Regions from separate parts of the Homo sapiens genome. Here region 2 is linked to region 1. The links come from fine-mapping of genetic effects on gene expression. A gene starts in region 1. The other region holds a variant in brackets. All regions are shown on one strand. Distances are from middle to middle.

Region 1 (15,694 bases):
GCCACCATGCCTAGCTAATTTTGTTTTTGTATTTTTAGCAGAGACGGGGTCTCACCGTGTTAGCCAGGATGGTCTCGATCTCCTGACCTCGTGATCCACCCGCCTCGGCCTCCCAAAGTGCTGGGATTACAGGCATGAGCCACCGTGCCCGGCAAATGCTTAGTCATTTTAAAAAACAACTTGTCTATATGTTAAAATGAGAAACAGAACATTAATCTCCTTGGAAGTGTCAGAATAATACTCAGATGTTACTAGAAGGCAAACTGCCTGAAAAATCTAGTTTATCTTAATAATCAGATAAAACATTAAGAACATCACCATTCTAAGATTAATTCATTACTAGAACTGTTTATCAAGGGAGATTGTGAATGTGCTCACTATTATCTTTAACAGGTGAGACAGTCCTCTCAATGAGGACTAAACTCAGTTGTAAAGTAAGGAAAGACATCTATGATCCTTCTCCCACCAACATGCTGGAGATCCCTCTTCCAGAGTCTGCTCCCCACAATATCCCCAAATGGGAAGCAGATCCTGTAGAAAAAGAACTGGATTCAGGCTTACTGTGTGTGAGCCAAAGTAGTCAAGCGAGAGGGTCCCCAGTGCCTGTGGGCCCTAGCACAGCTTCACACAATAAATATCTCATACACTCTCCTAGTCCTGGTAGGTGAGCTGTCATTAATGACATAATAACACCCACATAATTCACCTGAATCCAGTCACGTCTCACCGTCTCCACTGCTATTCCCTAAGATCAAGGTCCATATGCTCTCAGCTGCCAGGTCTCTCCACATCTGCTGTTGACCCTCCCTTCATTCTCTACCCAGTGGTGTTTTTAAAACACATATCATAGCTTTCATCTGCTTAAAACCTTCCAAAGACCTCCCTGTCACATTTGGAAGAAAATCCAAACTCCTTCCCATGGCACACAGGCCCTGCCTGATAGGTCCCATTGCCCTCCAACCTCATCTACCCTTGGACAAAACTATAGCCCACATGGGCCTTCCTTCTGTCCTGTAGACAAGCCCAGCCCATTGCCATCTCAGTGGCATCTTTGCATTAGCTGCTCCCTCTACCCAGAACACTCTTCTCACTCAACTCACGTCACCTTTCACAATCTGAAATGATTTGCTTACTGTGCTGTCTGCTTCTATCACCACTAACTGCCCAGCTCCATGACAGCAGGAACCCTTTGTAGGAACCTCTGTGCCCATACTGTCTGGCACAGCGCCTGGCACAATCACAGGAGCTCAAGAGTTGATGAATGGTTAGAATTCACAATTATTGGTCTGGCACGGTGGCTCACTCCCGTAATCCCAGCACTTTGGGAGGCAGAGGCAGGTGGATCACAAGGTCAGGAGTTTGAGACCAGCCTGGCCAATATGGTTAAACCCCATCTCTACTAAAAATACAAAAATTAGCCGGGCATGGTGGCGGATACCTGTAATCCCAGCTAGTTGGGAGGCTGAGACAGAAGAATCGCTTGAACCCAGGAGGCAGAGGTTGCAGTGAGCTGAGATCGTGCCACTGCACTCCAGCCTGGGTGACAGAGCAAGACTCTGTCTCAAAAAAAAAAAAAAAAAAGAATTCACAATTTTTTTTAATCATTATGCATTTTTGCTCAACAAATAGATAGTGAAAGTGCAGCTACTATGTTTTAGGCAATTGTAGTTGTCTTTTAATGGGGTCCTAAATTAGAAAACAAAGTATTTGCAACTAATATCATAAAAAGAGCTAATTTCTTTTTTTTTTCTTTCTTTTTTTTTTTTTTTGAGATGGAGTCTTGCTCTGTCACTCAGGCTGGAATGCAGTGGCGTGAGCTCAGCTCACTGCAACCTTAATATTATTTTTAATCTTCAAACTAAGAAAGTCATTGACAAAACCAGAAAAAGGTATAAATATCTCATTTTTAAAAGCAAGATGAATGACTCCTCAATATATGTAAAGATGCAAAATCTTGCTCAAAATAAAACAAAACTACTGGATACCATTTTTCACTTTTCAGCATAGTAAAGATCAAATACTTTGCAGAGTATGCAGAAACACGCTCTCTCCTATATTGCTGGTGGAAGCATAAATTGATACAGTACAATCTTTTTGGAGAGTAGTTTGGAATTATCTGTGAAAATTACAAGTGCATATCTCCTTTGACCCAATGATTTAACTCTCAGGAATGTATCCTATGGATATACCTGCATAAAAGAAGTAAAATATATATGAACAGGATAATCACTGCAGCGTTTACTACAGACAAGAAACGACATAAATGTATAGTGACTATGGGCCATCTCTACAGTAGAATACTACGAAGCTGCAGAATCAGGGAGCTCTTGGACTCACATGGAATGATCTACATGACACACTGTTAGTTAAAAAGCAAGTTTCAGGACTGTGTATTACACTGTATTTCTGGCTTTTGTAAATATATATAATGTACTTACAAATATATAAAATGTCTCTGAAATGACAAACCAAAAACTAGTAACTTTGGTTACATCTAGGGAAAAGAACTGAATGGCTGGAAGAATGGAGAAAGGCTTAGTTTTGTAGCTTTTAGATTTTGAACCGTTTTTATATGATTATTAACCATCTAAAACAAATCAATTTAAAAGGATTATCCTCATACATAAAAAGTTCTAAAATATTGCTTTGGAAGACCTAAGATTTCTTCCAAACTTTAGATTGTGCACTGTGCCAAAATTTCGGAGGTTCATAAAAGTAAACCATACTCTTATCTTTATTCCTTTCGTACCATTAAGTACTTGATAAATAATTGTTCCTTGATTTTTTTGTTGTTTTGTTTTGAGACAGGGTCTCCCTGCTGCCTAGGCTGGAGTGCAGTTGCTGAATCATAGTTCACTGCAGCCTTCAACTCCTGGGCTCAGGTGATCCTCCCACCTCAGCCTCTGGAGTAGCTGGGACAACAGGCTGTTTCCTGATAGACCTTATTCATTTTCTTTTCTTTTTTTTTTTTTTTGAGACTCAGTCTCACTTTATCGCCCAGGCTGGAGTGCAGTAGCGTGATATCGGCTTACTGCAACCTCCGCCTCCCAGGTTCAAGTGATTCTCCTGCCTCAGCCTCCTGAGTAGCTGGGATTGCAGTCACCCACCACCACGCTCAGCTAATTTTTGTATTTTTAGTAGAGACGGGGTTTCACCATGTTGGTCTGGCTGGTCTCGAACTCCTGACCTCAGGTGATCCGCCTGCCTCGGCCTCCCAAAGTGCTGGAATTACAGGCGTGAGCCACCACGCCTGGCCCCAAACAGCATTTTAAATTATACAATAGAAGATATAGTTCTGGAAGGTTATATTTTGAAATGTTATATAAACAATAGATATTTATGGTGCCTGAATAGCAATTTTTGCGGTAGTGGAGAAATGACAACTCTGGCAAGTACTAAGAATTATTTCCTAGTATTTCAGCTGGGCACAGTGGCTCACACCTGTAATCCCAATACTTTGGGAGGCCAAGGTGGTAGGATTGCTTGAAGCCAGGAGTTCACAACAGGCCTGGGCAACATAGTAAGACCCCATATCGAACTCCTGACCTTGTGATCTGCCCACCTCGGCCTCCCAAAGTGCTGGGATTACAGGCGTGAGCCACCACGCCTGGCCTGTGAGACCCCATGTCTACAAAAAATGTTCTTAATTCACTGGGCGTGGTAGCTCATGCCTGTGGTCCCAGCTACTCCACAGGCTGAGGTGGGAAAATCACCTGACTCCAGGAGTTCCAGGCTGCAGTGGGCTTGATCGCACCACTGCACTCCGGCCTGGGTGACAGAGTGAGATCTCTTCTCAATCAATCAACAAAAATACAAAATAAAAGATGTTTTAATAACAAATAGTATAAGAGAATTTACCTGCCTTCTAGGACTTTTTATCTAATCCAACTTAGGAGCCAGGATATGTTTATATGAAAATATAACCATCACGCTAAGAAGGATATCATAGATGCCAAATAAATAGTACAAATAAGCAATTCCTTAAGGAGTTCAGGAGGAAACATCACATCCACTAGGGTGATCAGTAAATGCTTCAAGAGAGGAATAGAATCTGAATTGGGCTTGATGAATAATCCAATTTCAGCAGGCTAGGCATTGCACAGTAAGGGACATTTGAGTGGCTCAGGAAGAAGTAAGCAGGCCAGGCTGGACAAATGAAGACTGCAAGTGGCAGAGGATACTGTTAACTCCTGGAAAGTCCACTTCATCAGTCCCTGATGCCTGTGCCCTTCCAATGCCCTGGATTAATTTTGACTCTTCCTGGTATTTTCCAGAGTTGTCATTTCTCCTCCATTTCTCCACCACCACAAAGCCATCCAAGCTCTCATCCCCTCCCTCTGGGAAGATCTCCAACTCATCTTCCTGTGTACAATCTTCCCTCTCTCCAAATCACAGAACACATGTACCACATGTACTACTTTATATGCATAACCCATTTACCCTAAACACAAAACTGGCTAATGGCTAGCCACTGCCTGCAAAATAAAATTATTCTCCCTGGAATTCAAGGCCTTCTGTCATCTGCTCTCTATCCACCTCTCACTCCATCACTGGACTCACGCTTCCATAAACTTCATATACAAGTTTCTTGCCCACGATGTTCCTTTTATCTTAAAAAATCTCTTTTATTTTGTTCCCAGGCAGGGCACATATGGTTGTACAGGTTGCATTAACTAGAATTTATATAAATGACACTCCCTGGCCAGGCGCGGTGGCTCACGCCTGTAGTCCTAGCACTTTGGAAGGCCGACACGGGTGGATCACCTGAGGTCAGGAGTTCGAGACCAGTCTGACCAACATGGAGAAACCCCATCTCTACTAAAAATGCAAAAAATAAAATAAAATAAAATAAATGACACTCCCTGCTAGTTTGGGCAGTGCACAACCTCTGCAACCTTCCAACCATGGTTTGTTTCCATCCTCCACCACCCTGAAGGCCTTCTCTGAACAACGGAACTCTCAGAGATCAATTGTGCCTCTGATTCCTACACCACCAACTTGACACCAACTTTTCTTTACAACAGAAAGTTACAATATTTGGAACACCAGCAGTGCCTTGAACATAACAGATATTCAAAAGATGTTTGCAAACTATGATGGAGTAAGTCAAGATCGGCAGGTTGTCATCAAACTGTAAAGAGCCTTGAAGGCCAAGAAAGAAGTTTTGGCTTTATTTGGCAGATGCAAAATATGGTCAAATAATGAGAATGATGTTTTAGAAAGACTAATTTCAGCAACCACAAGCAAGCAGGGTTTTAACGACTATACTTAAAGTGACAGGTTAAGGGCCCTCTCTGTTGAAGGGCAGAGGGGAGCTTCCTCTGTAATGAGCAGCATCCTCATTCGGCCATCCTGCAGTTTATCTGTTTGGGATTGCAGATATTGGTTTTCATATACCTACACTCAGACAGTGAAGCTAAAACTGGGCCATTAAGCTAAGAAAAACATGCTTTTGCCTGAAATATCTAAGTATCTAGGAAACAGCTCTGACTTGAATAATTATACACATACATAAAATACATATACACAAATAAGCATTACTTTTCTCCCTTCACTTCTTTTGCAGTCTCCCTCTTTTCCATCTCTGTCTTCCCTTTTTTGTTTCTTGTGTTTCTCTCCCTAAAATTACTATGCATTTCTCTCATTTCTTTACAAATGCTTTACATTAATGATCTCCATATGGCCCTTTCCCTCTCCCAAAACACCCTCCCTCCCCCTAAGATTATATTTGAGGTATTTTACTGGTTTTGCTCATATACTGGTTCAGTCAACTCCCTCATTATCTGCACTAATAATAATTCAATTCTCCTGTTTCCTTTGCTAATGTAGCTCAAACCTTCACTAACCTTAGAATTCTACAGTTACTGGAGAATCAAAATTCCAAGTCCATTTTCCTAAAGCCCTCCTTAAAAAAAAAAGGCATTTATGTATTTAGGTAAATAAATTAATTTCATTGTATTGTTGGAGAACCAAATAAGTAACTCTTATCTGTAAATTCAAAACTGTTAGAACCTAATTCACTAAACAAAATGAGTTTCCTAATGAATTTCCTTTCAAAGCATGTATCTTCGATTTCAAGCCAAGAAGAAATAATAGACTCCGTGGCACTAGACAATTTTATTTACTTCTTAGATTTATATAAAAATCCTTACTCCCTACAGGAAGAATATTATGTAGAAGTAATCCACTGCAATAGCAAGGCCGCCGTTCCGAACATGTACATGCCTATCAGTAAAACATGACAGGGCACAACCTTAAATTTAAAAAATGAATGGAAGGAGGATCTTAAGACAGTGTCAAACAGATAAACTATAATATGCAGTTTGGGTTTTGTGCCCCAAAAGGCTGTCTTCTTTGAAAGTCCATCCTTAGTCTGCTTATTCCTCCCACTGAATATGCTCACTTGTACTAAAAACAGGAAAGTGCTATCACCACTTCAAGGTAAGACAGTCTAAGAAAAGACTGCAATATTTTCCCATTCATCCTAGTAAAGTAGAAAAAAAAATTTACCCAAATACTGTTTTCTGGATTTAGGACAGTTTAGATTTTTCTTTGTTCTCAAGGTAATGGTTTTTTCCCTTCCCATATCATAGACCCTCTGAAAGTCGCAGTGTGAATCTTTGCTACCAAACGGTGGACAAGAGGTTTGCTAACTCCATACTTTGTAGGAAAAGGGGGAAGAAAAGGGCACAGACATCCATTATTTAGAGTCTATCGATAAATTAACCTGCTTTATAATATAACGATTCCATTACAGCACATAGTATGCCGGGGGCAGAGTGTATAGAATGTGTGGAGAGTGCACATTTCACCATAACAAGAATCCATCTTTCCAAACACTACCAAAAATTGGCAAATAATTCAAACTGCGCTTAGTTCAAGGCTTAATTGTTGAACCCTAACAATAAAAGTTCAGAAAAATGTAATTAGCAGGTTGCTCTCTGCGCAAAAGTAAACTACAAAGAGGGGACATTTGTCTATCTCTACACGCCCCTCCCCATGCCTGAGGATTTCGCCCTCAAGAGGTGCGTCTAGTGTAAGGGCCAGACCCCGCTGGTGCCCCGGACAACGGGGTAGGAGTGGGGACCGACCGGTCCCGTAGTTGGCCGCGCCTGGGCCTCGCTGGGCGCGCACCCCGCTGGCTCGGTCGCCCGGAGGCGGACAGGACGGAGACGGGACGTATGGACGGGACGGACAGACGCGACAGGACGGACGGGACGGGTAGAGAAGCAGTGCGTCCTACCCGGAGGGCTCCCTCCCAGGGCCGGCGGAGTACCTGCTCCGGTCATCCAGGCTGCGGTTGTCGGCGGCTGCGTTGCGCCAGTCGGGCAACGTGCTGGCGCACAGCACCACCATGGACACGATCACGAACACCACCGACACGCTAGCCAGGATCTGCGCGGCCAGCGACGACGTGGGCTCCTCGAAGGTCCGCCGCATGCGCTCCAGCCAGCGCCTGGAGGGAGCCGCCTCGGCCCCGCCGGGGCGCGCCTCGTCGCGGCCCAGCACGCCCGGCTCGTCGGCCGAGTAGAAGGTGTAGGTGTCGGACATGCGGTCGTCGAGGCGGCGCTGGCAGCAGTACTCGAGGTGCGCGCCCTCCAGGCCCCAGTAGATCATCTCGTTGTAGAAGGAGAGCTCGCACATCCGCGGCGCGAAGCGCAGCTTGCCGTGGCCGCGCACGTAGAGCAGGATGAAGCCGAAGGCCTCCGAGTGCCGGTCGAAGAAGTACTCGTTGCGCTCGCGGTCGTAGTCGTCGCACACCTCGAGCACGTCGCGCTCGGAGCGGCAGCCGTGCAGCCGGCTCACGCGGCGCAGCGGGAAGTCCTTCAGCAGCTCCCGGGACAGCGAATACCGGGCGCCGCCCACGTTCAGCACCACCGAGGCCGCCCCGCTGCGCCCGAAGGTCATGGCTGGCCGCCCGGGGGACTTTCGGCCCGAGGGCCCCGCTGCAGCCCCCCACCCCAAGCCGCCACGCGGGGCCTGCCTGCCCGTGGCTGACGGGGGAGCGCGCCGTCGGGGCCCGCGCTCCCTCGGGGCTCCGCTCCTGCCCTCCGCTGGCCCGGGGGTCCCTGGGCTCGAGTATCTCCGGCGCTGCTAGTAGCGCGCCCTCCGCCCGGCGGTACCTGCGGGTGGCCGGGGAGTCCTCGCCGGCGCCAGCGCTGAGCCCCACCGGCTGGGAACGCGGCTGTGTCCGCGCCGCCGACCCTCGCGCCCGAGGGCTGCGCACACCGAGGCCGCGGTGCCCTCTCCCAAGCCGCGGGGCCGACCCCCTGAGGGCTGCGGGCGCCGAATGGAGCCGCCGGGGCGGAATAGCTCCCCGTCTCCGGCGCTCCCTGCGGCCGCGAATCCGGCGGCCGCCCCGCCGCCGTCCAGAGGCGAGAGGCAAAGTGAGCGGGTTCGGAGGCGGCGAAGAGCCGGCTCGCGGCGGCGGGGGCGGGGCCTCTGTGCAGTCCTCCTCCTCGCCCGCCGGCTCCGCGCGCGCCGCTCACCTCCCTCCGCGCCGCCCTCCGCTTCCCGCCCGCGCCCGCACCTCCCCGGCTTGCTCGGGCTGGGATTCCCGGGCGCCCCGCCCTGGACCTCGGGCTCCCCGCCTCGTGACGCCGTCCTCCCCCTCCGCTCCGGCCCGTAGTGGCGGGGAGGGGTCCGCAGGGCGGGGGAGCGGGGAGCCCAGCGCCGGGATGCCTGCTCCCGCGTCCTGCCCTGGGCCATCGGGATGAATTGGGCAGTCCCCAGGGCCCCTTTTAACAGCCCTGGTTCAAAGCCCAGTGTGGACTCGGGTGCGGGGACAGACGGCGTTTGGAGAGCTTTTTCCAGAAACTGTCCGGAGCCCAGCTCGGGTTCTGACATCGCCCCTAAGGATTTCTCAGGGAAGGCATCCCAGCCACGGCTTTTCCTGCCGACTTTGCTCTTCCTACCGCCGCGCGGGGCGACCCACGTACCGCGTGCTCAGAGGGCGGCTACACGCCCCATCCCCCAGCCTCGGTGCCGCCTGCCAGCCCGCGGAGGGAAGCGGTCCCCGACCCGGCCCCGGCCCCCACGTTCTGGGGCGCGAGTCCTGAGAAGGCGCCTAACGTGTAGCGCGCCTGGACCCTCTCGAGATGCTGCCCTTAGAGTGGGATGAAAGTCTGGGGAGGAACGCCTTGTCACCGGCAAAAACAGCCTTTCTCTTGGTCTTCGTCTGCATCCTCCTTTTCAAAATATCTTGATTTCCCCCGCGCACCCCTGACCCGGCTGCAGCACCGGCCCTCCGAGCGGGAAGAGCCCCGTGAAGGCTCCGCAGAGCGATCTACCCCGCGCTCTTGTCCGTGCCCAGAAAGCGGGTTCCACTTGGCAGGGATTATTTTAAACTGCTACCAGCAATTCATTCACCTGACACCCGACACCGGCAGCCCAGCCCGCCGGAGGCGAGACAGGTGAGTTGTAAGGCGAACCGTGTTAGATGCAAAACAAATACTAGAAGAAAAAAATAAGGGTGGGGTAGGGTGAGATGCGGTCATCTGACCACAGGGTAACCTGGCTGGTTAAAGGGAAGAGTTTTTCATTGCCCTCTACTTTTCGTAATTTTGTAGGATTGTCCGGTGCCCGCTAGAGGTCGCCAAACGGAGTCCTTTTGCGCTGGTTCTTAAGTGGATTCCTAGTGAAAAGGCAGACAACTGAAAATGTGAGTGCTGTCTTTTAAGTAAAATCACTCTCGGTGGCTTCTTAAAGAATGAAAATCTCTGTGAGTTGTTTATCCCCAGACTTGGATAATTTATCTTAAGAGCACTAAATGTGATTAAAAGCTCAAAAACAGGAGTTATTTGCTACTTTAGTATCTACTAAATAGTTTGCTATTCAGTATCTATTTTGCTATTTAGTGTCTACTGGGTAGATACTGCTACTTTGCTGTTTAGTATCTACTAAGTAGATATTAAACAAGAAAAATATCTGTAAGAAAGTGAGTTTCAAGACAGAATTGGAGGTGCTGATGGCCATGAGTTGGCACAGAGAAAGGGCAAAACATTCCTAGTAGCAAAATCTCGAATGTGGAGGTTTAAAGTCTGTGAAGAAGTATAATGCACTTGCCCACTGAAACAATGGGGATCTCAACTGCAGCATTTAAATTGGATCCCATAAGCAATGGAATCCCTGGAGGTTTCCATAGCAGAAATGGCTTGATGAAAGCTTTATTTCAGGAAGATGCCTTTGCACTTTGGGTCATTCTAAGGAGAAGGTCATTTCGCAACCCAGGAATGGGATCCCCAACCCCGTGTCTGTGAAGATGAAGAAGGGTCTGTTCTGAGAAACGCTGAGACCAAGAACTTTGCAGGTCTTGAAGATGGATTTGTTGTAGGACGTGAGGATGGGGAAAAGTTTGCAGATGTGAGCCAGAGATGAGCCTGGCTTGATACCAAGAGCCAATTCATCAGGAAGCCGTTAAAAAATACTTTCTAGAAGCATCACAAGCAATAGAAGACAGAACTATAGTGCCGATTGTTTGCTCTAACATTATTGTAGGGTTTATTTCCTGTGTTCTCTCCGTAGAATCCTTCTACTGTCTGTTGATTGAACCAGTTGAAGAAATATCTCATTTTAAATTACATTTGAGCTTAGAAAACAAATTAATTTGATGACAATACAATGTGTGCCTCCTAGGTATATTTTCATGCGATTTCTTAGAGAGATAGGCTTAAATCATTTCATTTGTTTCAAGAGTAATATTTTTATTTGATTTTAATATCATCAACCACTGCTGCAGCAGCAATACCCAAATCGTTTTCTTAAACAAAGAAAACAGTGATGCAGAAATGATAGGCTTGTCTCAATATAATCTGGTTTAGAGAGCATTCTTAAAGCCAATTCTATTCTTTGTACTTTGAGAAGATAATGTTGAGAAGTATTACATCCAGATTCTCTCCTAGACTCGGGATGGTATTTAGGGTCTTCATATCTAAATCTTTAGAATGCATTACAATTTAAAGGTAGAATTTTAGAGTTTGAAAGAACCTAGAGGTTTTCTAGTTTCAGAACCTAGGAAAAAAAAAAAAAAAAAAAAGCAAATTACTCCCATTTTTTCCTCCCCTCCGAAGTTACAAAGCTTCAGAGATGTGGCTGTAACTAGCCCGAGCATTCCCAGCAGCAGCATCCTGGCAGAGGCTAGAATCAGGTTTTCTCATGTCAAACTCTGCTCACTCTGTTTCCAGGGCCTGGATTGCTGCCACAACCTTCTACCTCATCTCTTTGCACTCCAGTTCTTTCCTATCTCTATGAATTCTGAATAAGGCCACCACAGAGCTCTTCCTTCCATCCATTTTCATCAGGGCATTCCCAAATTCAAAAACCTGAAAGGTGGCTGGGTGTGGTGGCTCACGCCTGTAATCTCAGCACTTTGGAAGGCCGAGGCAGGCAGATCACCCAAGTTCAGGAGTTCGAGACCAGCTTGGCCAACATGGTGAAACCCGTTTCTACTAAAAATTCAAAAAATTAGCCAGGCATGGTGGTGCACACCTGTAATCCCAGCTACTGGGGAGGCTGAGGCAGGAGAATCGCTTGAACCTGGGAGGCAGAGGTTGCAGTGAGCTGAGATTGTGCCATTGGACTCCAGCCTGGGCTACAAGAGCAAAACTCCTCTTGAAACTAGAGGTTTTCAAAAAAAAACAAAACAAACAAAACCTAAAAGGAGTATATAAAAGTAGATAATTAGAAATTGTCCATACAATAAAGTCCAAATTGGCCAGGCGCGGTGGCTCATGCCTGTAATCCCAGCACTTTGGGAGGCCGAGGCAGGTGGATCATGAGGTCAGGAGTTCGAGAGCAGCCTGGCCAAGATGGTGAAACCCCGTCCCTACTAAAAATACAAAAATTAGCTGGGCGTGGTGGTGCGCCCCTGTAATCCCAGCTACTCAGGAAGCTGAGGCACGAGAATCGCTTGAACCCGGGAGGCAGAAGTTGCAGTGAGCCGAGATCGCTCCACTGCCCTTGAGCCTGGGTGATGGAGCGAGACTCCATCTCAAAAAAAAAAAAAAAGTCCAGATTGTCTATAGGGCTCTCTCTAGGCTCAAACCCTGGCTGTATAACTCATTTGCTAAGCCACCTGGAGCCAGTTCCTTAAACCTCATTGATCTTCAGTTTTTCTCCTCCGTAGAATGAAGATAATAATACCTACATCCAAAGGGGTAATGAAAAGATCACAAGCTGATGTGAAGGTGGTATATAGCTCAGTGCATGACACTAGAAACATCTCACTTCATGTATGCTTCCTTTAGCCCAAATCAGCCATGCTCATTTCTCATTCCTGGGTTCTAAATAAACACAGATTGGATAAGTGAATTGATTTGTCTAAACATGTGACCAACAACAGAGTAACCTGAAACAAAAAATTCAGTAAAAAGTTGTGACCCTTTTACTGCTGACTCTGGCTTGAACACAGATTCCTCCATCACTTTGCATTGCATAACTGGATGTGTTCGAGGACTCCAAACACCGTTTCCCCCAAAGCTTTAGAAATTGAAATACCCTGTGGGCACTACTGTTCCATGCAGCTTACTTATCAACTCTGTCTGCTTTAAAAAGCCCTTGCCCTGCTGTTAATTCATATTTTTCAATGTTTGCATTTACATCAGTTTATTTCTCAGCCTCTGCCGAATCAGTTGGTACTTTTAAAGACAGCTTTTCGAATGGAAATTCAAATGGAAACTTCTCTCATTTTAAAATATAAAAGGCTAATGACTTAGCCCAGTGTGCAGAATGACCCCTGTAGAAGGTGTTCAGAAGACCACCAGGATGGCTGAATGGTAGAAAGGAGAGCTTTATTGTTGTTATCAGTTTGCAAGCCAGGAAGAGAAAGTCTCCGGTGTGGACTGAAGGTGCTCTCTCTTCAAAGAGGGAAATAACAGGTTGGGTTTTAGGCCTCACAGGGCCTGTATCATACATAGTCAGCAGGCTTGGGGGAAAAGCTATACATACTTACGGGGGAGGCGCACACATGCATAATTGGTACACATATATGTAACATACATCGTGTTCACTTTGTGATGGGGCTTTAGCATTAAAATGAGGTGGAATTTGGCTCTTTATGTCAACAGGTGAACTACAGGCCACAAAGACAGCTTGTGTGCTGCCTCTGTAAGCTGGCTGAAACTGACCTGGGGTCTGCAGCAGCTCATCAGAAAAGAATGTTTGTAATGGCTGTCTATCCAGACAGAGTTGTTGTCATCTGGGTTGTATAACAGAATTGAAAACTCCTATTTTTAGGGAGTTTAGCCACAGTAATTTAGAAATTTGCCAGCCAAGCCCTGAGCCCTTGACCCATCAGTAACTTGGTTTCCTTATCTTAGGGTCTGTCTTAGTTTATTAAGGGGCATCTATTTTCGTCTCTCAGATTACAAAGGTAGAGCTGTAACTCAATAGCACTATGAGGTTATCCCAAGATTCAGAGTGGTCTTGTTTACAGAGCTCTAATACAGGGAGGTATAAGTCAAAGGGTATGAAGTTTCAGTTATATAGGATGAATAAGTCCTAGAGATCTACGATGTGGCATAGTACCTATATTCAATAGTACTATAATGCATACTTAAGCATTTGCTAAGAGGGTAGATCTTTTTTTTTTTTTGAGACGGAGTTTCACTCTTTTTGCCTAGGCTGGAGTGCAATGGTGCGATCTCAGCTCACCGCAACCTCCGCCTCCCAGGTTCAAGCGATTCTCCTGCCTCAGCCTCCTGAGCAGCTGGGATTACAGGCATGCACCATCACCCCGGCTAATATTGTATTTTTAGTAGAGACAGGGTTTCTCCATGTTGGTCAGGCTGGTCTTGAACTCCCAACCTCAGGTGATCCACCCGCCTCGGCCTCCCAAAATGCTGGGATTACAGGCGTGAGCCACCACGCCCGGCGAGGGTAGATCTTATAGGTGTTCTTATCATTTCAAAAAAAGGAATAGTGGGACATGATGGCTCATGCCTGTAATCCCAGCACTTTCGGAGGCCGAGTCAGGCAGATCACGAGATCAGGAGTTCAAGACCAGCCTGACCAACATGGAGAAACCCCGTCTCTACTAAAAATACAAAATTAGCCGGGGTGGTGATGCATGCCTGTAATCCCAGCTACTTGGGGAGGCTGAGCAGGAGAATCGCTTGAACCTGGGAGGCGGAGGTTGCGGTGAGCTGAGATCAAGGCAATGCACTACAGCCTAGGCAACAGAGGGAAAAAAAAAAAGGAATAATAAAAAGACAGAAAGAAACTTTCAGAAGTGATGGATATGTTTATGGCATAGATTGTGATGACAGTTTCAAAAGTGTATACTCATCTCCAAACCCAAGAAGTTGTATACATGAAATATGTACAGTTTTTTGTATGTTAATCATACCTCAATAAAGTGTTTTCTTTTTTGAAAAAAAAAAAAGAGAGAGAGAGATGGCTGGGCATGGTAGCTCATGCCTGTAATCCCAGCACTTTGGGAGGCAGAGGCAGGTGGATCATTTGAGGTCAGGAGTTTGAGACCAGCCTGGGCAACATGGTGAAACTCTGTCTCTACTAAAAATACAAAAATTTGGCCGGTGGCTCACGCCTATAATCTCAGCACTTTGTGAGGCTGAGGCAGGTAGATCACCTGAGGTCAGGAGTTCGAGACCAGCCTGGCCAACATAGTGAAACCCCATCTGTACTCAAAATACAAAAATTAGCTGGACGTGGTGGTGGGCGCCTGTAATACCAGCTACTCGGGAGGCTAAGGCGGGAGAATCTCTTGGACCTGGGAGGCGGAGGTTACAGTGAGCCGAGATCACGCCACTGTACTCCAACTTGGGTGACAGAGTGAGATTCCATCTCAAAAAAAAAATTAGCTGGGTGTGGTGGCACGTGCCTGTAGTCCCTGCTACTCAGGAGACTGAGGCAGGAGAATCGCTTAAACCTGGGAGGTGGATGCCAGTGCACTCCAGCCTGGGTGACAGAGGCTCTCTCAAAAATAAACAGAGAAACAGAAATGAGAGATACAAGAAAAAACGTAAAAGTTCTCAGATATCTAAGGCTGAGGCAAGAAATATGTGTAAGGGAGGGGAAAAATTTTTTCCTCTACCTTCCTAGGTTCTTGGCCTATGCTCCTACAAATTAGACTGACAAAAGATAAATTAACAAGAGAAACACAGTTTATTAGAAACACTTTATTAACAAGTACAGCATAGTACATTACACCGAGAAAATCAAAGGGTTGTTAGTATCAAAATCAAGAGGCTTTATGAAGCTTTTTTTTTTTTTTTTTGAGACGGAGTCTCACACTCTCGCCCAGGCTGGAGTGTGGTGGCGTGATCTCGGCTCACTGCAAGCTCTGCCTCCCGGGTTCACGCCATTCTCCTGCCTCAGCCTCCCGAGTAGCTGGGACTGCAGGTGCCTGCCACTACGCCCGGCTAATTTTCTGTATTTTTAGTAGAGACGGGGTTTCACCGTGTTAGCCAGGATGATCTCCATCTCCTGACCTCATGACCTGCCCACCTCCGCCTCCCAAAGTGCTGGGATTACAGGCATGAGCCACCGCGCGTGACCTGTATAGCATCTTAATAAAGAATAATAAATTTGCTACGAAGTAACCAGCTAAAGGAAAAGGAGTTTAGGCTTTTAGGGGTGGCAAACTATGGGAAAGTAAACATGTCAGGAAACTAACAGAAGGTAAGTGTTGTTTTATAAGATGCATTATGCATTACATAGATTCCTCTGGTCCTAT
Region 2 (15,694 bases), 510 kb before region 1:
GCCAGACACAAAAGACTATATATATATATACACAAAAGACTATATATATATATACACAAAAGACTATATATATATATATATATATATACACACAAACTTTTAGAATAGATGAAATTGTTTTATTATGAGATAAGTTAGAATAGCAATTACCTTGAGGAGATTGATATAAACTAGGAGTACACATGAGGGAATGTTCTCCATATTGGAAATATTCTGCATTTTGATATCGATAGTAGTTACAAAAGTGTAAAATTTCACCCAGCTACACACTTAAGATTTGTACTCCTTTACTGCTTATACTATATATACCAATATATTTGGTTGGGTTTTTTGTATTTTGGGGATTTTTTTTGGAGACAAGGTCTTGCTCTGTTGCCCATGCTGGAGTGCAGTGGCGCAATCATATCATAGCTCACTGAAGCCTTGAACTCCTGGACTCAAGTGATCCTCCCACCTCAGCCTTCAAAGTAGCTGGGACTATAGGCATGTGCCACCATACCTGGCTAGTTTTTTGTTGTTGTTGTTTGTTTGGTTGGTTGGTTGTTGTTGAGACAGGATCTTTTTGGTGTTACCCAGGCTGGTCTCAAATTCCTGGGCTCAGGTGATCGTCCCACCTTCGCCTCCCAAAGTGCCAGGATTTACAGGCATGAACCATTGCGCCCAGCCCTCCAATATAATTTTTTACATAAAAATAAGTTTTAAAAACTACCAGGTATTTCTGATGATCAGCCTAGTACAGGAAACATTCGACTTGGGAATCTGTAAGTTCTCTTAAAGCTAACATTCTGTGAAGATGAGATGAAACAGAAATAATGGCGCCAGAGCAAAGGCAAGAAGAAGAACCAGAGAGTAGACACAGAGCTAAATAGGAAAGAAAGGGAGACCTACAGAAAATACATTAACTCGCCAACATTTGTTTAGCACCTGCTATGGGCAAGGCACAATGCTCGATAGCCAGAAGGTCAAAAATGAGCAAAGAGAAGCCCCTACCTGCAAGGAGCTTGCCTTCTTGTAGGGGACATAATTCTACATTACAAAGTACAGTGCAGTAATTGCTGAAAACCAGAGGCACCAACAGAAAGCTCCACAAGTGGAAAATGGCATTCAGTTGGGCATGGGGATGATCTGGAAAGAATCCACAGTGGAGCAGGTACTTGAACAGAGCCTTGAAGGATAGGTAGAATTCTGCTGGAGAGAGACAGCTGGAGGTAGACATGTATTAATTCTCTCTCATACTGTCATAAAGAAATACATGAGACTGGGTAATTTATAAAGGAAGGAGGTTTAATTGACTCACAGTTCCACCTGGCTGGGGAGGCCTCAGGAAACTTACTATCATGGTGGAAGGCAAAGGGGAAGCAAGGACTTCCTTCACATGGTGGCAGGAGAGAGAAGACAGAGCAAAGGGGAAAGAGTCCCTTTTAAAACCATCAGACCTCATGACAACTCATTCATTACCACAAGAATATCATGGAGGAAACCACCCCCATGATCCATCCATCCTCCCACCAGTTCCCTCCCTCGACACCTGGGGATTATGGGGATTACAACTCAAGATGAGATTTGGGTGGGGACACAGTCAGACCATATCAACGTCGATTGAGGATCCTTTATAAATGCAATTTAGACTGGCCAATGCCTAGGGCCAGTGTAACCTTTAAAATGGAAACTCACCAGACTCACCATAAGATGGATAAATAATCCACCCTAGAAGTGGCTAGCAGACGCAGAATGAACTCCAAATCATACCAAGGGACTAGAAGTTTCCCAAGGAACCATAAAAGAGACAATGTCCTCAGCACAGAGGGTAAAATATAATCATTTGTTGTTATCCTTAAAGAATAGGAAGGAAACTGCATGGAGACCATAGGCAATAAGACCAGGCCAACCAGAACGTGAACAAGGAAAATAGCAGTGACAAGGCAAAGGATGGGACACAGTAGAGTTGGTATCAATTGACTATGACTAGAATATTGCTCCCTGAGGATTAAGACTCTGTCTTGCTCATCAGTGAATTTCTGGGGCCCAGCATAGTGCAGGGCACAGAATACCTACACAATAATGTTTGTTGAATGAACTAAATAGGTGAGGAACAGACAAAGGTGACACCCATTCCCCAGGTTTAAAGTATGTGTGACTGGGAAAATGGGAACTCAGGAGCAGATGGTTTGGAGAGGAGAGAAGATTATGGGTGGACAGTTACAGAAGAAAGACTGGAGCTTGGACCGGAAATCTTACCAGCAATTTTTTTTTTTTTTTTTTTGAGATGAAGTCTCTGTCACCAGGCTGGAGTACAGTGGCGTGATCTCAGCTCACTGCAACCTCCGCCTCGCGGGTTCAAGCGATTCTCCTGCCTCAGCCTCCTGAGTAGCTGGGACTACAGATGCATGCCACCAGGCCCAGATAATTTTTGTATTTTTAGTAGAGATGGGGTTTCACCATGTTGGCCAGGATGGTCTCGATCTCTTGACCTCACGATCTGCCTGCCTCAGCCTCCCAAAGTGCTGGGATTACAGGCGTGAGCCACCGCGCCTGGCGCCTACTAGCAATTCTGCAGTTGAAGTCATCCTCCAAGAAATGACTGCTGAAGCTATCTGAGTAGACAGCAGAGGCATGGGGGAGAATGGACAGAAGAGAGCTGAATTTGAGAGTAAGAAACTACAGAAGGCAGCAAGAAATGAGAGACAGAAGAATCAGGAAAGTATAGCATCAGCAAAGTCAGTGGACGAGCTTTAAGAGGACGGCCCTGTCAGTTAATTCTATTTGAAAAATGATAGTTGTGTCCCTGCTCCCCAAGCAATCCAGAGACAGAAAAGCTTAGCAGACAAAGTGTGGACTTGAAAGTGAAACAGGCAGGCCTTGAATCCAAACACGGCCCTATGTCATTTAATAGTGAAATCCTAAGCAAGTTACTGAAACTTCTATTTCCCAATTGGTTGGGTCTTCTGTTTTCCAACTGGTTAAAAGTGGGAATTAATATGATCTATATCCAGGTTGCTGCAAGGATTAAGTGAAGGTATATGAAAATCAACAAAATATATGAAAATGCCAAGCACAGGGATTGGAACATAGTGGGCACTTGGTTCTTATTTATTCCTCTTTCCTTCCGTGCTGTGTGCTAGGATCTGGTGTTTGGGGAAAATGATGCTGAACAAGTAACACTTGAAATGCAATGAAGGGGAGGAGATCTAAGAGTATGCATGGACCCCGAATGAGGAGTGAGCGAACCATTGCACGCTGGTCAACCCAACCTGACAAAGCTGTCCCAGGTGCTTCAATTAGTAAGGAGATGTGAGTGACCCTGCAAAGAGCAGTTTTAATAGGATGGGGACAGGGTGGGATGAGAGAGCAGAGGCAGCGACTGTCTTTCTTGGGCAGCAAGAGGAATAGCCAACGAAGAAGTAACTGCAAAGACAGAAATGTGCGTGGGTTGGGAGCAAGCTGAATGTGTATATGTGCAAAGGAACCAGGAGGGAAGGAAAGATGGAGGAGGCAAGGGAGAAAAGGGCTAGTTGATGAAGGGCAAGTCACCCACAGAGGCAGTGAAATAAAATCAAGGAAGCATTCAAACCCAAGGCTGCTCCAGGTTTCATGACTTGGGCCTGTTGTTGGTATAACCTGATGGGTGGTCTTTAAGAAAAAGAAGGCAAGTTTACAAATACAAAATTAGATATGACTGTGTATTTTTTTAGAATAAGGAAATCATTCACAACATTTTTAAATTACATTTTTTAAATGTTTAAGCTGATAAATATCACAAAACCCAGAAAAATGGCATGTTTATTAATTAACTTCCTGACATACCTCTATAATACTTTCAGGGAAAAATGTATTTGTTTTGCTGTGTACTCTTTTATGGATTCCTCTTACATCAAAGGTTTTGTGGTATCGTTTTTTATAGAGGGTATAGAAAAATAACTCGGGCCAGGCACAGTGGCTTATGCCTGTAATCCAAGCACTTTGGGAGGCCAAGGTGGGTGGATCACCTGAGGTCAGGAGTTCAAGACCAGCCTGGCCAACATAGTGAAACCTTGTCTCTACTGAAAATACAAAAACTAGCAGGGCATGGTGGCGCTTGCCTGTAATCCCAGCTACTCTGGAGGCTGAGGCAGAAGCATCGCTTGAACCCAGGAAGCGGAGGTTGCAGTGAGCCGATATCGCACCATTGCACTCTAGCCTGGGCAATAAGAGTGAAACTCTGTCTCCAAAAAAAAAAAAGAAGAAGAAAGGAAGGAAGGAAGGAAGGAAGGAAGGAAGGAAGGAAGGAAGGAAGGAAGGAAGGAAGGAAGGAAAGAAAAATAACTTTCTTCTAGCATGCTTGGACAAAATTTGTTTTCTATTATTGATGGTTGAGAAGAATTTCTTTCAGCTTCATAACTTAATATTGGTAATACATACGTTTTTAGGATTGTCATATTTGGGAAAACCACTATTGAGGTCCTTTCATGTATGAGCTATAATATTTCAGGGCATGTCAAGTTTTCTTGCACAGTGACTCATCCTAAAAATTATTTAATTGACAATAGTCATTAGTTTGTTGATGTTCTCATTGTAGTTTATTATGAGTTTTATATTGTCTTACTGTCAGTATTTCATCTCAAACCAGCACAAAATTTAATATTGTTCATATGATTCAGTGATAACTTGAAAATCATAAACATGTGACCTTATAGGTAAGCATTCTAGCTGTGTGCAGGATTGTTGTAAATTTTTACCCTACAAACACATGAATTCTGATGAAATCATATTTCACATCAAGAAAAAAAATGTTTGATGCATTTATAATTGACTATATTCCTGGAAGGAAAGAATTTTTATTTTGACTTGGCATTGTTAAGAACCAATAACTTACAGTTTTACATTTCTAATGAAAAAAAAAAATTCCTGGACTAGCTTATGGTTCTGAAGTGAGTTGACTGATAGCCCCCAAAATGGTATGTCCACATCTTAACTCCATCAACATGTGAATTTGATCTCATTTGGAAAAGGAGTCTCTGCAGATGTAATTAAGGATCTTGGGATCATCCTGGATTACCAGGTGAGCCCTAAATCTAATGACCAGCATCTTTAGAAGAAACAGAAGAGAAGGCACGAACGTGGAGGAGACAGCTATGTGAAGACGGAGGCAGAGATTGGAGCTACACAGCCACGAACCAATGAACTCCTAGAGCCACTAAATGCTGAACGAGAAGAGGAAGGATTCTTCTCCAGAGCCTTTGAGAGGAGTGCAGCCCTGTCGACACATTGATTTCAGACTCTTGGACTCCAGAACCATGAGAGATTGTATTTCCGTTGTTTTAAGTCACTCAGTTTGTGGTAATTTGTTACAATGGCCCTAGGAAAGAAACTCATACCAGTTCTATACATTCCAAACCTGGTCTCCCTTTTACTACCCAAATATTGGGTAAATGGGGTTGCAAAAAGACACACTCATGATGTGAAATGCCCTCCAGCCATGCACCTCTCCATGCCAGGTAGTGCAGAGAAGGCCCCACGAGCCCTTCCCATTGTGGATGGCCAGCAACAACTTAAATACCCATTAAAGTGACTGCAGGCCACATAAATACATCTCACTAAACCCAGACTAAAAGCATCCCACACTCAACTTCCGCTTAGCTGGATCCCAGCAAATCTCCAAGGCCCTCCAAGGCCACTCAGCACAAACAGAAATGTGAAGGCAAGGAAATCAGAGTGGAAAGAGACAGACATCTTAGCGGTCATGGTTAAAATATCTGACTTCTGGGCCAGGCGTGGTGGCTCATGCCTGTACCCTTTGGGAGGCCAAGGCTGGTGGATCACTTGAGGTCAGGAGTTTGAGACCAGCCTGGCCAACATGGCAAAACCCTGTCTCTACTAAAAAAACAAAAATTAGCCAGGCGTGGTGGTGCACATCTGTAATCTCAGCTACTTGGGAGGCTGAGGCACAAGAATCGCTTGAACCCAGGAGACGGAGGTTGCAGTGAGCTGAGATCATGCCACTGTACTCTAGCCTGGGCAACAGAGAGAGACTGTCTCCAAAAATATATATAAATAAATAAATAAATATATATATATATATATATATATAAATAAATATATATATATATATATATATATATATATATATATATATATATTTTATCTGATTTCTGTAACTTTGCTAAAATATATCGCCCCTAGGACACAATACTAGGGTTCTTACCCTCAGGTCCTTGAGGGGATTTAAACAAGGGAGGGGCTCTGAGCTTAAACTCCTTGGCTTCATGAAAATAATCTCTGAGTCAGTCTCCAGCAAGAAAGACCACATCTTTCCCTGGGATCTCAAGTTTTATGGCTAACCGGGAGGCTTTCCAATGGACTCATTTTCTAGAAGGAAAATGATACTGACCTGTATGAATAGTTCCACGGAGACAAGAGCACAGGAAAAGTTGGGACAAGAAAAAAAAATCTGAAGGCGGCACAAAGGGCCTCTTTAATTACACTTAGAAGAAGGAAGGTGTGGATCCACTCTTGAGGCTGTAATTGGAGCAGAGGAGTGATATCAGTGGTCATGGAAGGAAGGGGACGATGTCAAATCCGATTTTGCTTCCATATTCTAGGAAAGATATAAAATCAGAAAGAGCAAATATTGTCAGTTGGTTCAGAAGCTGGAGTTACGTAACAAGGTTGCTTGAGTCTGAGGCTTTTCTAAACATGGATCCCTTGGCTCATGTCTTACATTCCAGGGACCCCCGAGAACCTGTAGATGAAATAGATCGGTAACTTCAATGCATCAGGAAGGTTGAGAGAGATGCTGGAATTCTATAGCTGAGCAGACATGGTTAGGACTTGTCCAAACAGAAGAGGCAGTTACTGGTAACTGTAGGCTATCAATCTCAGGCAAGATTCTAGAATAGA[TTG/T]TGTGTGTGTGTGTGTGTGTGTGTGTGCATGTGTGTGTGTTTGGGTATTTTCAGGGCAAGATTCCACAGTATCATCAGGTTCCTAGAGAAGTTTGTGACCCCTAAAATGGCTAAAACCCACAGGCAGAAGATTTTATTTGCGGAAAAAAACATTCAATCCTTGGGAAAGCTCTTCTAATTCCTTCCTTTCACAGGTGGTGAAACTGAGGACAGAGGGTGATAAGGGCTTGCTCAAGGTCATACAGCAAGGTGGTGCAAGAGTCAGAACCAACACACAGATCTTCAGACTCCCAGTTCAAGGTTTGCTCTTTCCTCAATCTCTCACTGTTTCCTATCACACCACCTTCCCTTTACATATAAACCATCGCTAGCTTTTTCCAAAACGCTTTTCACTCTTCATCAAAAGGTATCAAGAGATGCCCATGGGAGCAGGGTGTGATTCATGAGCTCTTCGTGCACAGCTGTCCCATTCCTGAGAAGGGTCTGACAGATTCTGAGCACGGCACTCAAGCCAAAAGGAATCCCTCTCGATTTAGAAATCTTCAGCCACTCCCTGGAAAATGAGGAATAGAGCCTAGGTATGTGGGAAAACCATGACAGGCACCTGAGCCTCAACAGATTTAAAAATTTTTAAACAGTATAAAAAAATTTTAAAACAGATTTAAAAATCATTTGGGGTTCTTAGAAAGGAACAACAGGGTCTTTGAACACAGAGTGGGTTCTTTAAAGGCTCCTCTGTCCTGCCAAGTTCATTTCACTTTTTTTCATAGACTGTTTATACTGCTGGATTAGGAGAAGAGAGTGGACATGGTTCATCTGAATTTCTGCTCTTGATAAAATTTCTTAGAATAGGAAAGAAGAAATGACAGGGATTATTTGAAGATTCAAAGATGCTTCCGTGTTCACATTTGTCCTACTCTGTTCAAACTTTTTTTTTTTTTTTTTTTGAGACGGAGTCTCACTCTGTCACCCAGGCTGGAGTGCAGTGGCACCATCTCGGCTCACTGCAAGCTCCGCCTCCCAGGTTCACGCCATTCTCCTGCCTCAGCCTCCTGAGTAGCTGGGACTACAGGCGCCCACCACCACACCCAACTAATTTTTTGTACTTTTTAGTAGAGACGGGGTTTCACCGTGTTAGCCAGGATGGTCTCGATCTCCTTACCTCGTGATTCGCCCTCCTCGGCCTCCCAAAGTGCTGGGATTACAGGTGTGAACCAGCGTGCCCGGCCCTGTTCAAACTTTGTATCAGTGATGAGGATGAAACTGATGGCATGTTTACTAAATTTGTATACAATATCAAGCTGGAATTATTGGCCTTTCCATTTATAAACTTTTGTCAAAAGCTTCTAAAGGAAGAAGCTAAGGGGATAAAAGGCACTTCTTCCTACAAGAGCTCAGAGTCCAAAGATAATCAACAAGGACACAATTATGATGCACCTGTGGCTTACGCTACCACAGAGGGATGCATGGGGACTATGGGAGCCCAGATAAATAGGCCCCCAGCGCCACTGGACTTGCCATGTGGGAGGCGACAGCTGAGAAGTCTGAGAAAACATAGAGGTTAGCCAAGCAACACTAGAAGAAGGGCAACCCACCAGAGGAAAGAGACATGCAGAGGCCCAGGTGCAGGTGGACATTGGTCTGTTCAGGAAGCTGATGTGGTTCTGGATAGCAGAAGCGCCAAGAGTTGGAAGGGAGATGTCTGGGAACAAGGCCACAGAGTTAGACATGGGGCAGATCCTGAAGGAACTGGTTAATGTTACTTTAATATGTGTATTTTTTGTTGTTGTTCTAGAATGAGGTATCACTTAAAACTTTGGAACAGGGCCTCAAGGAGCTCCCATGTGGTAGGGAACACAGATGTGGAGCTCTTTCAATGCAGCATGGAGAGTTGTGCACCAGAGTCAGCCACATGTCCCTCACGTCAAGCCTCATTTCTGGCTACTTCTCCTCACTCTACTCCAGCCACATGGGCCCCAAAGCATCGAGCAACTTCCAGCCTTTAGGACCATCATACCAGCTCTTCCCTCAGCCCAGAATGCTCTCCTACCCCTTTCCCCAGTCCTATATCCAACTAAATCCTTCAAGTCTCAGCTCAACTATTACTGCCTTACGGAAACCTAATTTGACTCCCCATTAATGTTTCTCTTGGCACTTTTTACTTTGGCAGCACTGATGACTTATACCTTTTAAAGAATATATTTATTTGTATTATTGTTTAATGCCAGAGCCCCTGAGGGCAAGGTTGAATATGTTTTGCTCATGACTGTATCCCTTGTGATGATATCAAAAACTTGTATCAGTTAGAAAGAAAGAAAGAGAGAGAGAGAAAGAGAGAAAGAAAAAATAATGAAGTTCCAGTTATCTACCACTGCACAACAAACCATCTCAACATTTTACAACTTGAAACAGTAACCATTGTATTTTATCCCCCAACTTTGTGGGCTGGTAATTTGTGAAGGGATCAGCTAGGCAATTCATGTCTTCTATGGTCTCCATGAAGGTCATTCGATGGCATCAGATGGTAAATGGTCTAGTTTGGAGGGTCGAAGCTGGCTTTGCTTACATTTCTGGTGCCTTGATGGCTGGGGGGCCAGACTCATTTAGAACTACTGATGTGAATGGCTTCTCCAGTATGTTGCTATAAATAGGTTAGTCAAACTTTCTACGAGGTGGCTCAGAGGGAGGATCCCAAGAGACCCGGGTGGAAGCTTCAAAGTCATGTATGACCTACCTTGAAAGTTCCAGACATTGACTTCCACTGCGTGCTACTGGCCAAGCGAGTCAGTAAGGCGATCCCGGATCAAGGGAGGGAATTAGAACCCAACTCCCATGTGTAGAATGTCGAAGATGTTGCAGGCATCATCTCTAAGCCACCACAATGGGGCGGGGGACAGGGGAATGACATTTATCCTTTCACAGTGGTCATCCTGACTATAGTGCCCAGAAAGAAAGAAAAAGGATGGAATATGCCTAGGGAGATCAATTCAGAACATAATAGAAATAAAAATACAAAAAAAGAGGGTTTAAATGGTATCTACTGGAAGAGAAAAGGAGGCATGAATTTGAGAGATATTTTAGGAAGCAGTAGAAAGGAACAGTAAGAGCATGGACTATGGAGCCACATCATCTAGCTTTGAATCCTTGTTCTGCCACATACCAATGGTGAGAGCTCTGGAAAACTAGTTGTTTTCTCTGGTCCTCAGTTTCCTCATCTGTAAAATAGGTATAATAATTGTACTTATTTCACAGGGTTGTTGAACAGATTATATGAATTAATACATGGGGGAAAAGAGCCTAAAACAGTTTCTAGGTATACTAAGGGTACAATAAATATTAGCTCTTAAAGGAAAATAAATAAATAAAACTTACTAGGAGTCAAGTTTCGTCAGAAAGCCAAGGCATGGCTAGGGGAAATAGGAAAGGTTCCCTCTATCTATGTGTTCTGTTTGTCAGTGATGTTGAGGAGGCATTTTAAGCTTCCAACTTTGCAGCTGTAATGTACTTTGGAGTGTTGCATACTCCCACACCACCTAGATATGGTTACTTGCTAGGTTTACTGAATTCAATACTAGTGAAAAAACGGGAGCAAATAAAAATGCATAGAGATGTTTGAAGTATGGAGGAGCTGAAGATGCTCTATAAAAAGACCTAAGTCCTAATAAAATACATGTAACTGCATTAGCCTGAGGGCCTGGTCTTTCCTGCTCTTCCATCTTTTAACTGACATTGACCTTGCATCCACTCTCTTCCAGTCCCTGTGCCAGGTTCTGGGGATACGGTATGAACAAGACACTGTCCCTACATTTAATCCATAAACAAAGACATGCAATGCAGTGTCACAAGGGCTGGATCTGGGAGATGAGGGGACCCTGTAGATGCATGTGAGGGGACATTCCAGGCTGATGAGTGGCATCCACAAAGCTATGGAGGCATCTGGGGTTGGTGCTTAGGGTAGCATCGGTGTGACTAGAGTGTGGGGAACAGTGGGCTTGGCAAGAGCAGAAGCCCAAGGGGCAGCATTCAGGCCATGGCGATGTCTGCAGTGGTAGGCAATGGGCTGCGGGCATGTGGGCTCTTTATCTGGGTCTGCCTGCTGTCCTTCTGCAGAAATAGCCCATAAAGGCACTGAGATGCTGCCTGTCTAGCCCTTCACAGAGACAGAGGACCGGAATCAGTTTATTGCCATTCTCAGCTACTTCTTCAAAGTGCTTGAAGAGAGCAAACTGGTCATCCGGGCACCAGGTACAAGGACAGGAGGAGTTTGTGTCTGGCCATTAACGCTCACGGGGACCCAGCAGGCCCACTGTGTGCCTCAGATCCTGAGACTAAGTCCTTTAGTCTTACCCTAACTTCCTGGCAGTGGAGGAGGATAGACAAACATCTGAACCCTCTGCTGCCTTCACCCGCCTGCCTGCCTCTGTGGGAGCCAGAAGAGATGAACCCCAAGGATGGGTCTTGCCAAGCTTCCCACGAGTTAATACGTGGCACCTAAACCCCAAACCCCAGAGGGAAAACAGCATGCCCTTGCCTCATTCAGCCTAAAACTGCATGGCAGGACCAAGGGTTTGGCTCCATGAGAATGTACATTGAGGAGTGGTGTGTTAGTCCTTTCTCATGCTGCTATAAAGAACTGCCCGAGACTGGGTAATTTATAAAGGAAAGAGGCTTAATTGACTCACAGTTCCACAGGGCTAGGGAGGCCTCAGGAAACTTACAATCATGGGGGAAGGGGAAGCAAACACCTCCTTGTTCACATGGTAGCAGGAAGGAGAATGCCAAGCAAAATGGGGGAAAGCACCTTATAAAATCATCGGATCTTGTGAGAACTCACTATCCCGAGAACAGCATGAGGGTAACAGCTTCCATGATTAAATTACCCCCCACCAGATCCCTCCCACAAGACTTGGGGATTATGGGAACTACAGTTCAAGGTGAGATTTAGGTGGGGACACAGCCAAACCCTATCAGGTGGCAAAATCCCCAGATGGAGTTTCCCCACCAATGAGCATCCAACAGTCCAGCAAAGCACCTGATCCAGCCCTAATGCTGACCCCAACAGCAACCACACACTGACCCCAGCCTTGCATGGAACCCTAATCCAACCTAACCCTAACCTTACCGGACCCTTACCCACTGTGCTTTAATACCATAGCAATCTGAATCCAAGTCCCCAGCCTCCCTAACCCGATGCTCACCCTGAATAAAATAACTAAAATAACTTCAACACCAACATCCACTCCAATAAATCCTAGATTGCCTCTCAGCCCTAATTTTAGCTCCGATTCCAACTTCACCCCAGGTCAAAGGAAACACAGAAAGGAATGGTCTCTGGGGAGAGAAGTGCTGCTGCCCCACAGTCTGGTGGTCTTGACCGACAGCTGTCTGCCATATGTAGCTTGAAATGTACCTGGAACAATTGTCCTTTGGGTTTAAAATCTGATAGAAGACTACTGCCATTATGAAAGGATTTAATACACAGAAATCTCTTTGGAAAGAACCAGACCTTAGAAGTTCATAGTTGAGAAATAGAGGCATTTGAGTTATTTCCTCTGTGAATAGTAGACAGGGATGGAAGTTCTTAAGAAACTCTTCTCCTCCAACCCCTGATCTGCAGGAGTCATCAGGAAATGGGATTATCTTCAATTTATAAATGATGAATAATTGCCAGTTCTAAGCAGAGAGAGGAAGGGGGTACTGTGTCACAGACAGGAGAATACAAAGGGAGAAGCTAGATTTTTAAAAGAGACACCAGCATGTTTAATTCTTACTGTTCAGCCTCCTCCTGAGCCTGGAAGGCTGGTGCTGGGTGCCCAGCCTGTGGCCCGTAGGGTAAATGAGGGCTCCTGAGCCTGGCTCAGAGCGTGAGGCCCCAGGGTAAGTCCCAGAGTTGCACTCTGCTGGAGAAGGCAGAGGTCAGCCTAGAAATGTGACACCAAAATGGGCTGTCAATCAAACAGAAGAGAAATAACAGAGGCTGAGACACAAAGCCCAAAGGCAGAATGGCAGGAGCCATCAGGGCCAGAAGGAGAAACAGCGGGTTGGGACAGGAAAATGGGGTGGGGGTGGGGGAAGGCAAGCAGTCTGAATTCAACCCAAGGGTCCAAGGCAGCACCTCAAGAGCTTTTACACAATTACAGCACAAGTGCACATGGAAAAGTCAGATTCCTTTTTTAATAACTCCTTTCTCAGACTCAAAAAATTTAGAAGATTTAGAAAGTACAAAAAGTGTATAGACGCCAAGTAAAACGAACTACAACCCTTGACTTGAGTGACGCTCATTTAAAGAGGCAGGACATTACTAGGACTTAAATTGTTTCAAGAATTTATCCCTTTACCCTCAAGTTTCAGCTACTAACATCTGAAAGAAAAAAAAAATACGGCTCTCTTACTTTGTCCAAGAGGACAAAGCCTCCTGAAAGGAAGTCAAGGCCACAGCTGATGGTAACAGAACAGATTCTGTTTCCTGCACTCCAGAAAAGGGGAGGCAGCTGTTCATTCAGAAAAGGGTTATTGATCATCTCCTATGTCTGGCACTGTGTTAGGCCCTGGGTTCCAGCACAGCAGATGCCATCCCTTCCCTTGGGGCACTTACACCTTCTGCAAAGGCTGCTGTGGTCCCTGAGGTCATTCCTACAACACATCCCTGAAACATACCCACATGCACTCTCACACACCCCCACACGCACTCTCACACACCCCCACACACCACAGCATCACGCACAACTTGCAAACTGGAATACACAATCATCCACAGATACTCCCACTCACACACCCATATATCCACATCACATCACACTGACATATACTTACACAGACTACACACTCACATGCAATGCACTCACCACACACACACACATTCCTACAACACGCTGTCACACATGCAGTAACTGCTAAACACACACGAAGCAGTTATCTCCTCCTTCCTTTGTACTCCCTTAGCTCCTGTGTAAAGTTAGCTGTGGCATTTACCATACTGTAATGTGATTAATTACATCATGCCTCTCCTCCACCTCTGCCTCAACCTGGAAACTTCCTAAGTTCATTTCTGTAAGCCCATCTTCCTGCTCAGTGCCTGGCACATAGCAGGTGCTCAGTAATGTTCACTGCATGAACTTTGAATGCCTCCACTATGGACTTCGGTCCAAGGAGCAAGTCTCACCCTCTCCTCCACTGGCTAGAGTTGGAGTTAAGGGGGAAAAACATCTAAGGGAGCCCCTCAGCAAATGTTCTAATACAAGGCTCTCCCAGCTCAGCTCTACAGCACCCAGTGATCCTTTCTGCTTGTCCCACTTGTTGGAGGGAAGCCAACGACCTTGTGAGAAGAGGCAGGAGAGACTTTGTCAGATCTGCATGGTGGTCTCAAGGTCCCTGCCCGATTCTCCCATTTCTCCCTTTTTCTTTTCACAATATTACTCCCCAGTAAACCTTTTGCACACAACTCCAAAAGGAGGAGTGGGAGGGAAAGGAGGAAGAGGAGCATGAAAGACTAGCTGCATCTCCACGGCATGCACCCATTAGTGAGAGCCACAAGCCTAGGTCTGACCTTTGGCTTCAAGGAGCCAGAAATCTGATTTCTCAGCCCTCTGAAGGTTGAGCAGGTGTCAGGAGACTGAGATGTGCTCACCAGTTCCATGCAGAATGGTAGGTAGACTGAGCAGCTGATAAATCTCAGGAGAGGGAGGGGAGGGGAGGGGAGGGGAAGAGAGGGAAGGGGAGGGGAGGGGCCGAGGAGGGGGAAGGGGGTGAGGAGGGGAAGGAGGGAGGAGGAGGGCAGATAAGCAGAGGGGAGGAGCAAGGGGGAAAGGAGGGAGAAGGGGAAGGGGAGGGGAGAGGAGGAGGGGAAGGGAGGGAGGGGAGGGAGAAGAGGAGGGGGAGGGCAGGGTAGGGGAGGGGAAGAGGAAGGCAGGAGAGGGGAGGGGAGAGGGGAGGGGAGGGGAAGGGAGGAGGTTGGCAGGGGAGGGGAGGAGAGGGGAGGAGTTGGGCAGGGGAGGGAAAGTGGGGGAGAAGGGGAGTGGAGGAGAGGAGAGAGGAAGGGGCAAGAAGGGAAGGGGAGGGCAGGAGAAAGGAATAAGGGAGAAGGGGAGGGCAGGGGAGGAGAGGGTAGGGGAGAGGAGGGGAAGGGAGGGAAAGGGAGGGAAAGAGAGGGGAAGGGAGGGGAAGGGATGGCCCCAGATGCACCCTAGAGCACTCACTCCAACATCTGTAAGGTGCACTCTGAAGCAGCAGCCCAATCCTTGGGGCTGCTAAAGCCCCACTATTCCCACAACCTTCTAGTGTCAGGTCAGCTCCAGGCCATGCCCAGGCCAAATGGAATACCAGCATAACTTCAGAGCCACCCACCCCTTCCCTGTCACAATACCTGTTGGGTTTGGCCATCGTTAGTCATCCCTGATGCTCTGCTGAGGTTGTGTGACACCCCCACACACAAACTCCCACCCCTCCCAGGCACCTTCACACACAAGCACAGCCCTGGGGGCAGCTCCCATTCCAATATCATGCTTAGGAACTTGACTCTGTCCCCAGGCTAAGCTTCCAGAGACCAGGACTTGCCCACGTCCCCCTCCCCCACCATAATACACCAATACTGAGTCCTCCCTTCTCTTTCTGCAAGAAGGCAGCAGCAAGCAAGACCTTCTACTCTTTGGGGCTGTTTCCCCACCACCAGGCTGAGAGCTGTGCTCCACCTTGGGACGCATTAGCATTTTTAAGGTTCTTATTCCCATACACATCGTGCCCTGGGATTGTCCTCTTCCTTGAGGCATTAGCACCTTCCCTTCCTCTTTCTCACCCCAGCCCCGCCTGCCTGGGGTCAG

Alleles and levels. Positions count from the first base shown, and alleles are read on the strand shown. Sizes are in standard deviations (SD) of each study's normalised expression.
As copies of TTG replace T in region 2, the expression in monocytes of the gene that starts at base 8,389 in region 1 goes up (moderate effect, 0.48 SD a copy in CEDAR).

What was found. PIP is the estimated chance that this variant, and not a neighbour inherited with it, causes the effect.
Region 2: its variant is fine-mapped to the expression of KCNG3 in monocytes (CEDAR, PIP 0.95).

Annotation. Positions count from the first base shown.
Region 1 is chr2:42,485,594-42,501,287 of GRCh38, forward strand. KCNG3 (potassium voltage-gated channel modifier subfamily G member 3) reads right to left here and starts at 8,389. Exons shown (of 2, transcript NM_133329.6): 1 at 7,244-8,389. The coding sequence starts at 7,908. It also overlaps a transcript of MTA3 not described here. RefSeq lists enhancers at 6,576-7,333, 7,334-8,091, 9,416-9,710 and silencers at 8,172-8,261, 8,442-8,491, 8,582-8,661.
Region 2 is chr2:41,977,216-41,992,909 of GRCh38, forward strand. LOC105374517 (a long non-coding RNA gene) reads right to left here and starts at 11,465. Exons shown (of 3, transcript XR_940000.2): 1 at 10,039-11,465; 2 at 8,474-8,580; 3 at 6,141-6,495. RefSeq lists an enhancer at 10,924-11,093 and a silencer at 13,194-13,488. The variant TTG/T (reference allele first, on the strand shown) is at 6,877.